Linked DNA regions of Homo sapiens. The protein of the gene in region 2 binds, or shares a complex with, the protein of the main gene of each other region. Each region holds a gene or a part of one and is shown on either strand. Other genes may lie near its edges.

What was found. Proteins that work in one complex are often made in the same cells at the same time.
Region 1: CACNB1 (region 2) and CACNA1S share a complex: the UniProt entries of both Homo sapiens proteins name them as parts of the calcium channel complex.

The regions. Positions count from the first base shown.
Region 1 is NC_000001.11:201,039,427-201,046,462, forward strand, and holds the end of CACNA1S (voltage-dependent L-type calcium channel subunit alpha-1S), read right to left. Parts: intron 5,031-7,036; coding exon 4,902-5,030; intron 4,106-4,901; coding exon 3,855-4,105; intron 2,164-3,854; coding exon 2,078-2,163; intron 1,288-2,077; coding exon 1,196-1,287; intron 949-1,195; coding exon 805-948; intron 657-804; coding exon 405-656; 3' UTR 86-404; downstream 1-85. UniProt on the Homo sapiens protein: Pore-forming, alpha-1S subunit of the voltage-gated calcium channel that gives rise to L-type calcium currents in skeletal muscle.
Region 2 is NC_000017.11:39,180,648-39,187,683, reverse strand, and holds part of CACNB1 (voltage-dependent L-type calcium channel subunit beta-1), read left to right. Parts: intron 1-82; coding exon 83-205; intron 206-754; coding exon 755-891; intron 892-1,111; coding exon 1,112-1,188; intron 1,189-1,579; coding exon of another isoform or gene 1,580-1,734; intron 1,735-2,533; coding exon 2,534-2,553; intron 2,554-2,819; coding exon 2,820-2,900; intron 2,901-3,300; coding exon 3,301-3,359; exon of another isoform or gene 3,360-3,451; intron 3,452-3,543; coding exon 3,544-3,653; intron 3,654-3,819; coding exon 3,820-3,971; intron 3,972-4,673; coding exon of another isoform or gene 4,674-4,691; exon of another isoform or gene 4,692-5,043; intron 5,044-7,036. UniProt on the Homo sapiens protein: Regulatory subunit of L-type calcium channels. Regulates the activity of L-type calcium channels that contain CACNA1A as pore-forming subunit.

The DNA.
Region 1 (7,036 bases), on a different chromosome or scaffold from region 2:
CATGGGCAGGGTTCCTGGGGAAGGGACTGGGGAGGGGGAAACACAGGTGTAGAAGAGTCCAAAAAACTGGACAAGCAGAGGCCAGTTGCCAGTGTCACAGGCCTGGAGATTTTAATGTCCTGCAGGTGGGAGTGGCCCTAGGCCAGACAGGCACTGACCAGGCCTTTTTGAATGACATTAGAAGCTCCATCCAATCATGCCTCTTGCTGGTGAGGGGCAGGGCCTGTCCAGCTACTTCCTCCGCACTTTTTGAGGTGGTTCCTGACCACCCTGCCTCAGGCCATGCATCTAGCTGCTGAGAGGGAGGGAGGCTGCTGCGGTGGGCTAGCCCTTCTCCACCCCAGCAACTTCCCCACCCCCATTGGTCATGCCAGCTCTAAGCCCATGCTGATGCTGTGTGGGCATCACAGCCTTGGAGGAATAAGGGTCTCCTGGGAGCCCTGGTGTTGGTCGAGGCTGCCCAGGGAGGACCCGAGGTTCAGGCATCCCAGGGAGCTGGCCATGCCCTCTGGGGCCTCTCGTCCTTTCAGTAGCTCTGTTGCCATGATCTCCACTTCCTCTGGTTCCATTTGGCAGGCATCTGCCAGGGCCTGGCCTGTTGCCATGATGAAGTTTGCATCAGCTGCCAAGGTGCCCAGGCCCCCTCGAACCAGAGCCTGCAGGGAGGAGAGTAGGCTGAGTGGGGTCTTCCTGGGGAGCCACATTTGGGGACCTGCCTCTGTTGGCCCTACCCTCTCTCCACGCCAGGCCATCACAGGGCCACCACTCAATGCAGCCACTGCTGTGACCCAGCCCCTGGCTCACCTTTTGGATCAGCAGGGCTGTAGCTGGTGCTGAGCACCTGGAAGTATTCTCCCTGGTGCTCCTGCTGTGGGGTGTCTCCTCATGAAGAGACCCTGGTGTGGAGCTCTTTCTGTCCTCAGGCATGGAGGACTCCACCCTGGGGCACTGTTCCAAAGGTACAAAAGCAAAGACCCCGACAGGGGTGCTGGAGCCCACCAATGAGCAAAATTCCAGATCATCTGAGGGCAACTCAACCAAGATCCACAGAAAGGGGAGGATGGAGGGATCCCGTCCCTTCTGTACTGTTGGACACATTGCTGCCACAGCCTTCCCCTGCCATGATCCCACTCCAAGTATCAGGCCAGGCAGGGTCTCTGTATGGAGTTTGCTCCCAGGCCTCTGCCACTGTTACCTGGCAGGGGGCAGGAGGTGCCTGGCCTCTGGGCATTGCCCTCTGGGTCAGCAGTCCCTTCAGCATCTCCACACAGGGTTTGCTGTGGGGTCCTGTATGCAAGAAGGGGCAAGGATAAGAGGGGCTGCTGACTCCTGCCAGGAGCCCTGAGTCAACAGAGGCTCGCTTGGCTGGCTAGCCACACTCTGTGAGAGCTCTGAGATTCTCAGGGCTGCAGAAGGTGTCTTAGAGGGTGGACACATGATGAGGCCCAATCAACTCCAGGCCAGGCAGGGCTGCCCCAACTTTACTGGCCCTGGTCGCTGTTCTTGAAGGTTTGGGAGAGGGGATAAGGGCCAGAGTCTCTGGCCAAGCTGGTCCTCTGTGGTCCCTGGGTGTGTGCACATTAAAGTGAAAGTGTGTTGGGGAACACAGCAGTATCCTTATTGCCACTAGCCCCCAGCATCCTTGGGGCTCCTACTGTCACACAGCAGTCTAGGACATACTAGACTACAAGATCATTTGCAGAAGGGCCCCAGAGTCAAGACGTCAGTGTGTCCAGGGGCTGCCCTTCCAGGGACCTGGGGCGGTGTGGGGACTCCTGTGCTGGGGATGGTGTAGGGGGCTGTGTGAGTTTCCTGGGAGGCCTGCAGAGGGCCCTTTAGCATGAATGGGCTTTCCCCCTTCCACCTCACTCAGCCACCTAGATGGTGCCCTGCTTCCCCCCTGGACAAGTAGCTGGTCCTGATGGTTTTCCCATTCCAGGGCCCAGATGACTGCCATTGTAACAGGCTCCCAAGCCAGCCCTCCCAGCCAAGTTCCCAGACTCTAAGAAAAGAGTGGGGCTTCCCGGACTCCTCTGGGAGAAGACTCAAGCTTCTTAGATGCACAGAAGGGACTGACCCAGGACCCTGCAGGGTTGGCCAAGGGCTCGTCCTCTGGTAGCAGGCGTCTCTGTCTCTTCTGGGAACTCCCTTTCATAGTGGACACTGAAATGGAAGCAAGGCTGGGTGAACCAGAGAAGGCTGCTAGCTCTCTCGGCATCCCTGCCTCTCTGGCCCCAAACATCCTTTTCCCTCAGAGCCTGTACAAGGCCAACCTAGTGTAGCAGCCGTGACTCTAGGGCTGACGTTTCCACCACTGTGCCCCAGCCAGCCCTGACTCTCTAGGAGGAAGGAGTCCAGAGCATTCCTGACTCCACTCCTTTGCTCAGTTGCTCCCTCTACCCTTTCTACATTCTGTTCATCTTCCAAGGCCCAGCTGCAGCCTCCCAGCCTTTGGAACCCTGCTTCTCCATCTTGGCCACACATAGGATCACCTGAGGAGCTCAAAGGTGAGTGGTGGCTGAGTCCCACACCCAGCATCTGTGGTGAGGCCCAGGCATTGGGATTTGCAGAAGCTCCCTGGATTATCTAATGCACAGCCAAGGCTGAGAACCATTCTAGGTCTTTCCAGCCCATGGTGATCCATACCCCCTCTGCACTCTCAGGACACTAAATATCTGTTATTATTTGGTGTTTTTTGTTTATTTGTTTTGTTTTGTTTTGTTTTTTTGAGACGGAGTCTTGTTCTCTCACCCAGGCTGGAGTGCAGTGGCACAATCAGCTCACTGCAACCTCCACTTCTTGAGTTCAAGAGATTCTTCTGCCTCAGCCTCCCGAGTAGCTGAGATTTCAGGCATGCGCCACCACACCTGACTAATTTTTTGTGTGTTTTTAGTAGAGACACGGTTTCTCCATGTTGGCCAGGCAGGTCTCGAACTCCTGACCTCAAGTGATCCACCTGCCTAGGCCTCCCAAAGTGCTGGGATTACAGGCATGAGCCACCACTCCTGGCCTCTGTGATTATTTGGTCCCAATCATATCACATAACATATCACCCAACAAGACGACAACCCCCTTCAGGGCAGGGCCCAGGGCTGATGCTTCTGTATTTCCACGTTACCTTGCACCATGGTGACCCAAAAAGGTACATGCACCCTTCAAGGCTTGTGGGCTGAATTTAAGGGGTCTCTGTGACTGGAAGGGGTGCAGGCAGCCCTGGCCATGAAAAGGGGCTGGCTGCTGCCTTGTTCTGCTTATTCCTGAGGCCTGGGGCTAAGCCTTTCCAGGCCGAAGAGGCCTCCAATCAGCTGACCTCCTGTCTAGAACAGAAGCTTTGCCTGAGCCTAGCCCCTAAGTTATGATTGCTGAGAAGTTCTCCCCCTCATCCTGCTGTTTTTTATGACACTTACGTAATCACAGATTATATTTAGTCTACAGCCCAAGGTTGGTGAGATGGGAACCACCCAGCACAGCGGGATCTCCTTGGAACCTAAATCCAGTGATGGAATCTTATTGTCCACAGTCTTTTGTGGTATGTGCTACCACCGAAGATCCTCTCCTAACCTATCATGTGTTCAATACGTCTCAGCTCCTAGACTTGCTGAAGCCGACGGAATAAAAGAACCTCTCAACACTGGGGCCAATACTGACATGATGTGAGGCTTCCCCCTGCTGGCCAAAGAAGCCTCTGCCATCGAGGTCGGCCTCTTACATTAAGGTTCAGGATGGATTGGGGCACAAAGGCAAGCAAAAGACACCCTACAAATTTGGGGTACCCTCTTCCAATCCAACCTGGAACCTGCTGACATTGTCCTCCCAGTACCTCTACACCCAGGGATGGCAGTGGCCGCCACTACCTGGAAAACACATGGCTGTTGCTATGGTTGCTGTTGCCATAGGCGACATTGGCGTTGGCATTGTTGGTATTGGCACGAGCCAGGGGGTTGGTGCGTGGATCTTGTGGGAAGTCCTCCAAGAAGACAGGTGACTCCATCTCTTCCATCTCTATCTCAGCAAACTGGAGGGGTCTCTGATTGGCCATGACGGGGGGCAGGGAGTTGGTCCTTTCCAGGAAGTTGTCCACCTGGCCAAACAGGCCTCCAGTCCTCTAGGGGCAAGGAGAAGAGCAGTGACTGGGGGTGAGGGCAGGGAGGGCATGGGGGGCTGTCACTCTGGGACAGTGGTATTGGGAACAAGCAATAGTATTGGGAGACAAATCTTATAAGGCCAAAGGAGGATGGACTGAGTGGTGAGATCAAAAGAAGAAAATTCCCACCCTTAGAAAGTTCTTTGTTTGATGGGGTAGACAGCACACACCTAAGGAGGTATATAGGGGACACAGGCACACAGAAGAGAAGTGTGGTGTAGGGGAGAGAGGGCTGAATCGGGAGTCTGCAGCACTGGGTTCTAGTCCCCGCTCTGAAACTGATTTACTAGGTGATATTGGACATCTCACATGATCTCTGTGGGCCACTATTTCCTCATGAATAACCCAAAAAGACCTAACTAGGTGTCATTAAAGACCTTCCAGCAATAAAGTGTTATAAGAAACATGAGACAGAGCTAAGGATGGAGGACTGGCCTCAGTGGAGGCAGGCAGGGCATTTGATCCTGGAGGGCCTCTGGGAGATGGGTCGTTGCCTAGGGTTTGTGGGGAGGAAAGGGAAGGGGTGAGATTTGGTAGGGAAATGTGGGAAAGAGTGTGTTGCATTTGACACCTCTAGTAGATCAGGTCATTGATTCTGAGTCCCAGGAGAGGTGGGTGGTGAAGTGGAGAGACGGAGTGGGGTATCTTCAGCTCCCATGTCCCCCTCTCGTGTGGCTGGGCTCCCAGCCCTCCTCTCTGTGAGACACTGCCACTCATGGTGTCTAGACCACTAGGGGTGCTCCTGGCTCTCCCTCACCCGGAATATTCCCTCCTCCATCGCAGCCTCCACCATGGCTCTCTCCAGCTCCTCCTCAGCAGCCAGGTCTCCTGAGACCGTGCGACAGATCTCGGGGGCTGCCTCTTCCTCAATGGTCCGCAGCCCTGCCTGGGGATGACGAAGGGACTCAGTTATCTCTCCAGCCCAGGAGAGGAGACCAGAACCACTTTTTCTTTTTTTGAGACAGAGTCTCACTCTGTTGCCCAGGCTGGAGTGCAGTGGCACAATCTGAGCTCACTGTAACCTCTGCTTCCCGGGTTCAAGTGATTCTCCTGCCTCAGCCTCCTGAGTAGCTGGGATTATAGGCATGTGCCACCACTCCCTGCTAATGCTTGTATTTTTAGTAGAGATGGGGTTTCACCATGTTGGCTAGGCTGGTCTCAAACTCCTGACCTTGTGATCCACCCACTTGGCCTCCCAAAGTGCTGGGATTACAGGCATGAGCCACCGTGCCTGGCTAGAACCGCTTCGTATGGCTTACTTGTTTCTTATCACTGTACCCAGGGCTCTCCCAAAGCCCCAGCCTAGGCCCCACTCTCCCTCTTGGGTTATTGAATATCTCAGGTACCTGAGAGGCCACCAGGTCCTGCTCTGGCCTCTGGGATAGCCCACACCTTAATTGTTCCAATTGAGTCATCTCTTGACCCCATGGGTGGAAATTTCATGCCCTTCCCAGGCTTCCAGGTTGAGAAGTGTTCTTACTCAGTACAGTCTTCTAGATTGGTGATCTTTATTGATTGGATATGTCATATATATATAGTTGAGCAAAGTTAATATCACCAGTAATGGGACAAGTCAAGACTGGTGTCACCTAATAGCTTGTAATGAGAACACAGAATCATTTCTGTGGCATTCTTATCCAAGATGCATATCCTAGTAATCAGACAAACCCCAACTGAGGGACATACTGACCTGCAGTCTTCAAGTGTCAAGATCGTGTCAAGGAAAGACTGATGAACTCTTCCAGATGGAAGAGATGAAAGAGATAAGGCAACTCAATGCACTGTCTGATTCTGGATTGGATCCTTTTGCTATAAAGGACATTTACTGGGACAGCAAATGAAATTTGAATGGGGTCTGAGGATTAGAATGTAGTAATGTATTAGCCTGGCATGGTGACTCACGTCTGTAATCCCAGCACTTTGAGAAGCTGAGGCAGGCAGATCACTTGAGGTCAGGAGTTTGAGACCAGTCTGGCCAGCATAGCGAAACCCCATCTCTACTAAAAATACAAAAAGTAGCCTGGCATGGTGGTGTGTGCCTGTGATCCCAGCTACTCAGGAAGCTGAGGCATGAGAATGGCTTGAACCCGGGAGGCAGAGGTCGCAGTGAGCCAAGATCATGCCTCTGCACTCCAGCCTGGGCGACAGCGAGACTCTTGTCTCCAAAAAAAAAAAAAAAAAAAAAAAAGCATCAGTGTTAATTTCCTGATTTTGTGGTTATGTTGTGGTTACATAGAAGAATTATGCAGGATAACGCCCTTGTAATACACATTTTGCCTTGAATACACACAATGCCTTGAAATATGCATTAAAGTGTTTTTGGATGATGGAACATCATTTTGGAGTTACTCTCAAATGGTTCAGAAAAAAAGGTTTTATATTATACTTGCAACTTTTTAAAAGTATGAGATTATTTCAAAATAAAAATAGCCATTGAAATAAATTTTTGAGCACAGCTCAAATGCATGTGTATTTGGGGGTTTTATAAATTATGTGCATTACAGTGAACCCAAAAATAGAAATAAAACCAGATAAGATAAAACAAAAAGTTCTAAAGTTTTCTTTTCACACCCAATGGGACATATTTATTTATTTATTTATTTATTATTTATTTATTTATCTATCTTTTGAGATGGAGTCTTACTCTGTCACCCTTGCTAGAGTGCAGTGGTGCAATCTCACCTCACTGCAACCTCTGCCTCCCAGGTTCCAGTGATGCTCCCGCCTCAACCTCCCAAATAGCTGGGATTACAAGCGTATGCCACCATGCCCAGCTAATTTTGTAATTTTAGTAGAGATGGGGTTCTACCATCTTGCCCAGGCTGGTCTCAAACTCCTGACCTCAAGTGATCCGCCCTTCTTGGCCTCCCAAAGCGCTGGGATTACAGGTGT
Region 2 (7,036 bases):
AACCACCACTACTGTCAGGAAGTTGTACATTACATTGTGGTTTGCCCTCTAGTTGCCATCCTCCCCTGTGTGCCTCCTCTAGACCAAGCCAGTGGCATTTGCTGTGCGGACAAATGTTGGCTACAATCCGTCTCCAGGGGATGAGGTGCCTGTGCAGGGAGTGGCCATCACCTTCGAGCCCAAAGACTTCCTGCACATCAAGGAGGTGGGTATCTGGAGGGAGGGCAGGGAAGTGGGTGCCAGGAGACAGGCAGCCAGAGTGCTAGTGGACAAAAGGCTTCTGAGCCAAGCAGAGCCAGGCTGAATCTGCTGTGTGACCTTAGACAAATCTCTCCACCTCTCTGAGCCTCTTAATTTTCTACTGGAAAAATGAGGTGGTAATGCTTAGGTCAGAAGGTTGTTGGGAGGGTTTGTTAGGGGGCCTGAACTGGCATGGCGGTGTGCCAGGGACATGTAGGTATCCGCATTTACTCCAGCGGCCTTTGTAGAGTAGGGTGGGCACATGGGGAGAAGGACTCTCAGAATTGCATTGGGCCGGTGGCAGGGTGGTCCATGGCCAGAAAGCATGCTGGTCCTGGAGTTGTCCTGAGAATTGGCAGCTCCACTCAGAGGCTGGAGCCAGGGCTGGGGATTTTTGAGGGTGCCACCCCTGGGCTGGGAGGTGAGTCTGGGCGTTTCCCCTAGAGAGTGACTGCTAGCTTGCCCCTGCAGTTTCCCTCTTGCTCTTTCCACCCACCTGCCATATTCTTTGCAGAAATACAATAATGACTGGTGGATCGGGCGGCTGGTGAAGGAGGGCTGTGAGGTTGGCTTCATTCCCAGCCCCGTCAAACTGGACAGCCTTCGCCTGCTGCAGGAACAGAAGCTGCGCCAGAACCGCCTCGGCTCCAGGTGTCTGGGTGGGGCAGGGGAAGGGGATGCTGCCAACCCCAGGAGAGGCCATACAGCCTGGACTAGGCCTCAATGGTTGTCCCTGGCCCTGAGGGCACAGAGCTGCCTGTGGCATCACCAGTGGGGCTGGAGCACCTCCGGGGGTGCCGCATGTGAGAGGATGAGAGCCCCCCACGCCCACCTCTTTGCTCACAAGCTCGGTTTGCCTCTGCCCACACAGCAAATCAGGCGATAACTCCAGTTCCAGTCTGGGAGATGTGGTGACTGGCACCCGCCGCCCCACACCCCCTGCCAGTGGTAAGAGCCATCGCCATGCAGGGGTTTGGGAAGAAGCTCCTGGGTGGGGTGGTCTCCCCACTCCCTGAATCCTCCTTTCCCTGCAGTAGGAAACACCCCAATCCTGAGTCCCCCAAGCACATGCAGTGGTTCCCCCTCCATGAAGAGTAGGCTACCCCTCAAGCTGGGCCTGTCATGTCTCTCCTCTCCCTTTTCTTTGGTAGCTCCATCTCTCTGCCTGATTCCCCTGCCCTGCCCCCATTCATTTCTCCCAGCCCTGTTCCATTCACCTCTTCTTCTTTCTTTTTTCCCCATCCCCATCCCTGCGTTCTGTACTTGTGTCTCCACGTTCATCTCACTCCTTCTCCCCACCTCGCCTCCCTCCTCCCTCTCTCCTGACTCTCCGGTCCAGGTAATGAAATGACTAACTTAGCCTTTGAACTAGACCCCCTAGAGTTAGAGGAGGAAGAGGCTGAGCTTGGTGAGCAGAGTGGCTCTGCCAAGACTAGTGTTAGCAGTGTCACCACCCCGCCACCCCATGGCAAACGCATCCCCTTCTTTAAGAAGGTAATTCTCGCTGTGTTCTTGCAAGAGGTGGGGGAGTCAGGGCCAGCACTTTGGTGGAGGGAAGGGGGCTGTAATGGATTCAGATGTGGTACCAACCTGTTCTGTGGGCATCAGGGCTTCCTGCTGAGGTGGAGGGAAGGGTAGCATGGGCACATCCCCCTCCACACACAACTCCACCCTGGCCCGATCTCCAGGAAGGAGATCTTGCCCTTGGAAGGTTGCCCCCACACCTGGGGCAGCAGGGTTTGGTGGTCATGAACCCTGACCTCTCCCCTCACTCCCAGGGGCCTGCTCTGGTGTTGGTGTCTACCTTGGCATGTGAAGCAGGACATGGGATGGCATTCCTTCTTTGCCCTTTTTTGACTCTCTGGGTGGGCACATAGTGGGGGGGGGCTGCTGGCTGCAAAGCAAGACAGTTAAGGGAACCCCTAAAATGGGCATGTTGGCATGCACTGGGGGCAGGAGATGGGCAACAAGATAGGGGCTGTCACCCTCTCCAGCTCTTTTCCAAGACCCAGAAGAGGGTAGGATATGTCTGAATATTCCCACATCCACTGGACTGACTGTCAGTCCTGCTCCCAGCCCTGATCCAGGGCCACCTCTGGCTCCCCCTTGGCGTGGGGTCCCGTTCCCCGTCTCTGGCTCTGTCTGTCACTAACACGCATGCCCTGTTATCTCTCCTCGTCTGCCCGGCTCTCCCTCCCTCTCTTGTCCTGGCTCCTGCCTTGCCCTCTGCCCCTGCCTGGGTCCCCTTCCCTCTCTCCTCCCCCTTCCCTCTCTTGGCAATCTCTGGACCCAGCCAAACAGAAGCAGAAGTCGGTGAGTATCACAGCTTTCTGTGTCCTCCTCCCCACTCCCTGGGATGAGCTAGGGGGACCTTCTAACACCCATTCCCACATCTGTCCCCCATTTCCCCCACCCTTCCTGGTTCTCCCTGGCCATCCCTCCCCACCCCCACCCTGATCCCTACATCTGGGCTCTGGGACCAGGGTGGGGGAAGGCTGCATGGGGGAGCCTGGAGTCTGGGGGAGAGGATCTAATGTCATCTCCACTCTGGGGTTTCCCCTCCCTGCTTCCCCCCCCAGACAGAGCATGTGCCCCCCTATGACGTGGTGCCTTCCATGAGGCCCATCATCCTGGTGGGACCGTCGCTCAAGGGCTACGAGGTAGGACTTCCTAGAGGGGAGTGGATGCAGAGGGGCCTTAGAAAGATCTTCAGACCCCAGAGAGATCCCCTAGAAGGGCCCGATCCCAAGGCATCCTCCCAGGAGGGCTACAGACTTTCAGAGACAACCCCCAGGGGGCCCAATCCACAGAAAGACCCACTCAGAGGAGCCCCGTCCCCCAAAGAAACCCTCAGAAGAGCCCTCCCAGAGATGCCACTTACAGGGACCTTGGAACCAGAGACCCCAGTGGAGGCCCCTCAGACTCAGACCCCCGCCCGCCGTAAAGGCCTGTCCAGAAGAAAGTGGAACGTGAGGGTACAAATACCCAGCGACTCAGAGTCTGAGCGGCTTTAAATGCCTGCCTTCTCCTCCCTCCCTCCCCACAAACCCCCACCCCCAGGTTACAGACATGATGCAGAAAGCTTTATTTGACTTCTTGAAGCATCGGTTTGATGGCAGGTAAGATCCTGGGAGCTGCTCCTCGCACCTGCCGTTGCTCTCTGCTGCTGGGGATGGGCAGGATGCCTCGAATCACAATCCTGGGACTCGGACTGAGGAACAGAAGGCGGGCCTGGAACTGGGGAGTGGGCAGGGCATTCCAGCCCACCCTGACCCCTGACTCCCCTCTTGCCCCATTCCCCAGGATCTCCATCACTCGTGTGACGGCAGATATTTCCCTGGCTAAGCGCTCAGTTCTCAACAACCCCAGCAAACACATCATCATTGAGCGCTCCAACACACGCTCCAGCCTGGGTGAGCCTACTCCTGCTGTCTTCACTCCCCCTTTCTGGGCCGGATGTGGGAGGGGTGGGAGGTGTGGGAGGTAGTGGGCAGGGCCATCTCCAGAAGTGTTCCCTCCACCTGCTGTTCCTGGGAGGCCACCTGACATTCCCCCATCCACATGACTCCATGCCCCCAGCTGAGGTGCAGAGTGAAATCGAGCGAATCTTCGAGCTGGCCCGGACCCTTCAGTTGGTCGCTCTGGATGCTGACACCATCAATCACCCAGCCCAGCTGTCCAAGACCTCGCTGGCCCCCATCATTGTTTACATCAAGATCACCTCTCCCAAGGTGGGTGCAGGAGCCTGACCCTGGCCAGGACAGCGTGGTTTGAAAGGGCTGCTTGGGTTTAAATCCCAGCTCCACTGCTTACTAATTACGTGAATTAATCTGCCTGAGTCTTAGTTTCCTTCTCTGTAAAGCTCCATCGTATTGTCAAGTGTTTCAACCTCATATGAATGTATAGCACTTAGCAAATGGTCTGATACAACATGTTAGCTATTATTTACTATTATTAGGGTCATGCAGACCAGTCCCCTGTCTCCACTCTGATTGACTTCCCACCCTTGGACTGAAAGAATTCTGTGCTTTTTGTTCCAGTGCCACCCAGCTACTTGGCAGTTGGGAGGTCTTTCCTTTCTTCTTCTTCTTCTTCTTCTTCTTCTTTTTTTTAAGTCAGGATCTCGCTCTGTCACCCAGGCTGGAATGCAGTGATGCAATCATAGTTCACTGCAGCCTCTACCTCCTGGGCTAAAGCAATCCACCCACCTCGGCCTCCCACGTAGCTGGGACTACAGGTGTCCACCACCATGCCTGGCTAATATTTTTATTTTTTAGAGATGGGATTAGCTGTGTTGCCCAGGCTGCTTTCCTCTCTTGATATCAGCCCTTTTTGCTGCAGTGTCCTCATTTGGACTTTGATAGAGGGGAAATCGGTAGGAAGGCCGCCTTACTTTTTCCTTGTATTGCAGCACCATTAACTTTCCCTTCTAGATGCCAGTGGGGATCTGAGAAACACGGAGGAAGAGTTGAGGTGGAGGATTTGAAGTTAGAAGACAGCATGGGCTTGAAATTCAAGCTCTGATTGGTTTACGTATTGATTTATTCTTATTGTTGGTTGTTTTTTATTGAACTTGGAATCTTGGGGGAATTATTTAGCCTCTGATTCTCTATTTCTTCACCTATAAAGTGGGGTTGTAATCCCTCTCGTGTTATTGTTGAGAGGATTGCTGTAAGGAGCCCAGTATACTCTCTGATTTATTTATTTATTTATTTATTTATTTATTTATTTATTTATTTATTTTAGACAGAGTCTTGCTCTGTCACCAGGCTGGAGTGCAGTGGCGCGATCTTAGCTCACTGCAACCTCCACCTCCCAGGTTCAAGCGATTCTCCTGCCTCAGCCTCCTGAGTGGCTGGGACTACAGGAGTGTACCACCACGGCCCGGCTAATTTTTTGTATTTTTTAGTAGAGACAGGGTTTCACCATGTTGGCCAGGATGGTCTCGATCTCCTGACCTCGTGATCTGCCCACCTCGGCCTCCCAAAGTGCTGGGATTACAGGAGTGAGCTACCGCACCCAGCCTACTCTCTGATTTATGAGGGCAGCCAATAGTGGTAACCATTATCATCCCATGAGCTGGGCTCCCTGGACCAGTTACTTAACCTTTTTTTTTTTTGAGACAGCCTTGCCCTGTCACCCAGGCTGGAGTGCAGTGGTGCGATCTCACTCACTACAGCCTCCGCCTCCCAGGTTCAAGTGGTTCTTGTGCCTCAGTCTCCCGAGTAGCTGGGGTTAGGATTACGGGCACACACCACACCTGGCTTTTTTTTTTTTTCTTTTTGAGAAGGAGTCTCACTCTGTCACCCAGGCTGGAGTGTAGTGGTGCGATCTTGCTCACTGCAACCTCCGCCTCCTGGGTTCCAGTGATTCCTCTGCCTCATCCTCCTGAGTAGCTGGGACTACAGGTGCATGCCACCACACCTGGCTAATTTTTATATTTTTAGTAGAGACGGGATTTTACCATGTTGGTCAGGTTGGTCTTGAACTCCTGACCTCGTGATCCACCGGCCTCGGCCTCCCAAAGTTCTAGGATTACAGGTGTGAGCCACTGTGCCCGGCCACACCTGGCTAATTTTTGTATTTTTAGTAGAAACAGGTTTTCACCATGTTGGCCAGGCTGGTCTCAAACTCCTGACCTCAAGTGATTTCTCCTGCCTCAGCCTCCCTAAGTGCTGGGATTACAGGCGTGAGCCACCGCGCCCAGCCTACTTAACCTTTCTGAGTCCTCTGTTTCTAATGAGATAAAGGGGATGATGGGATTTAAGTACTTCCTGAGGGGAGTTGAAAGGACCAAATGAGATAATGGATGCAAAAACACTGAACTAGAAAGTAACCAATGCTTCCATTTCCCCCACTGAGGTTAAGAGGAGGGACTCTGGAACCAGGCAGCCTGGACCTTCTACTCCAGGGCTGTCACTTACTGGCTCTGTGTTCCTTTGGCAAGCGGCCAAACATCTCTATGCCTTGGTTTCCTCATCTGCAGCATAGGCATACTGGGTTTGTGAAGATTAAATAAATGGGTTAACCATGAAAAATGCTTGGTATTGGGCCAGGCACGGTGGCTCACACCTGTAATCTCAGCACCTTGGGAGCCCGAGGCCGGCGGATTGCCTGAGCTAAAGAGTTCAAGACCAGCCTGGGCAACATGATGAAACCCTGCCTCTACTAAAATTCAAAAAATTAGCTGCGCATGGTGGTGGGCACCTGTAATTCCAGCTACTCAGGAGGCTGAGGCACAAGAATTGCTTGAACCCAGGAGGCGGAGGTTGCAGTGAGCCGAGATTGCATCACTGCACTCCAGCCTGGGTGACAGAGCAAGACTCTGTCTCAAAAATAAATAAATAAATAAATAAAAATAAACGCTTGGTATCCCAGAACTATATCTGTTCCATTTTGTAAGAAGATTTTCATTTTCAAATAATTTCAGATTTACAGAAGTGTGGCAAGAATAGTATCAAAAAAATCTTATTTTTTGAATATTCTTCACCAGGATTCACTAACTTTTTAACATTTTATTGAGGTAGAATTCCCATACCATTAAGTTCAGCCATTTAAAGTCTATAAGCCAGGCTTGGTGGCTCACACCTGTAATCCCAGCACTTTGGGAGGCTGAGGCAGGTGGATCACTTGAGCTCAGGAGTTGGAGACCAGACTGGGCAACATGGCAAGACCCTGTCTCTATTAAAAAATAAAAAATAAATTAAGTGTACAGTCTAATTTTTTTCAGATTCACAAATTTTGAAACATTTACTTTTATCTTTCTTTCTCTCTTTTTTTTTTTGAGGGGGGACGA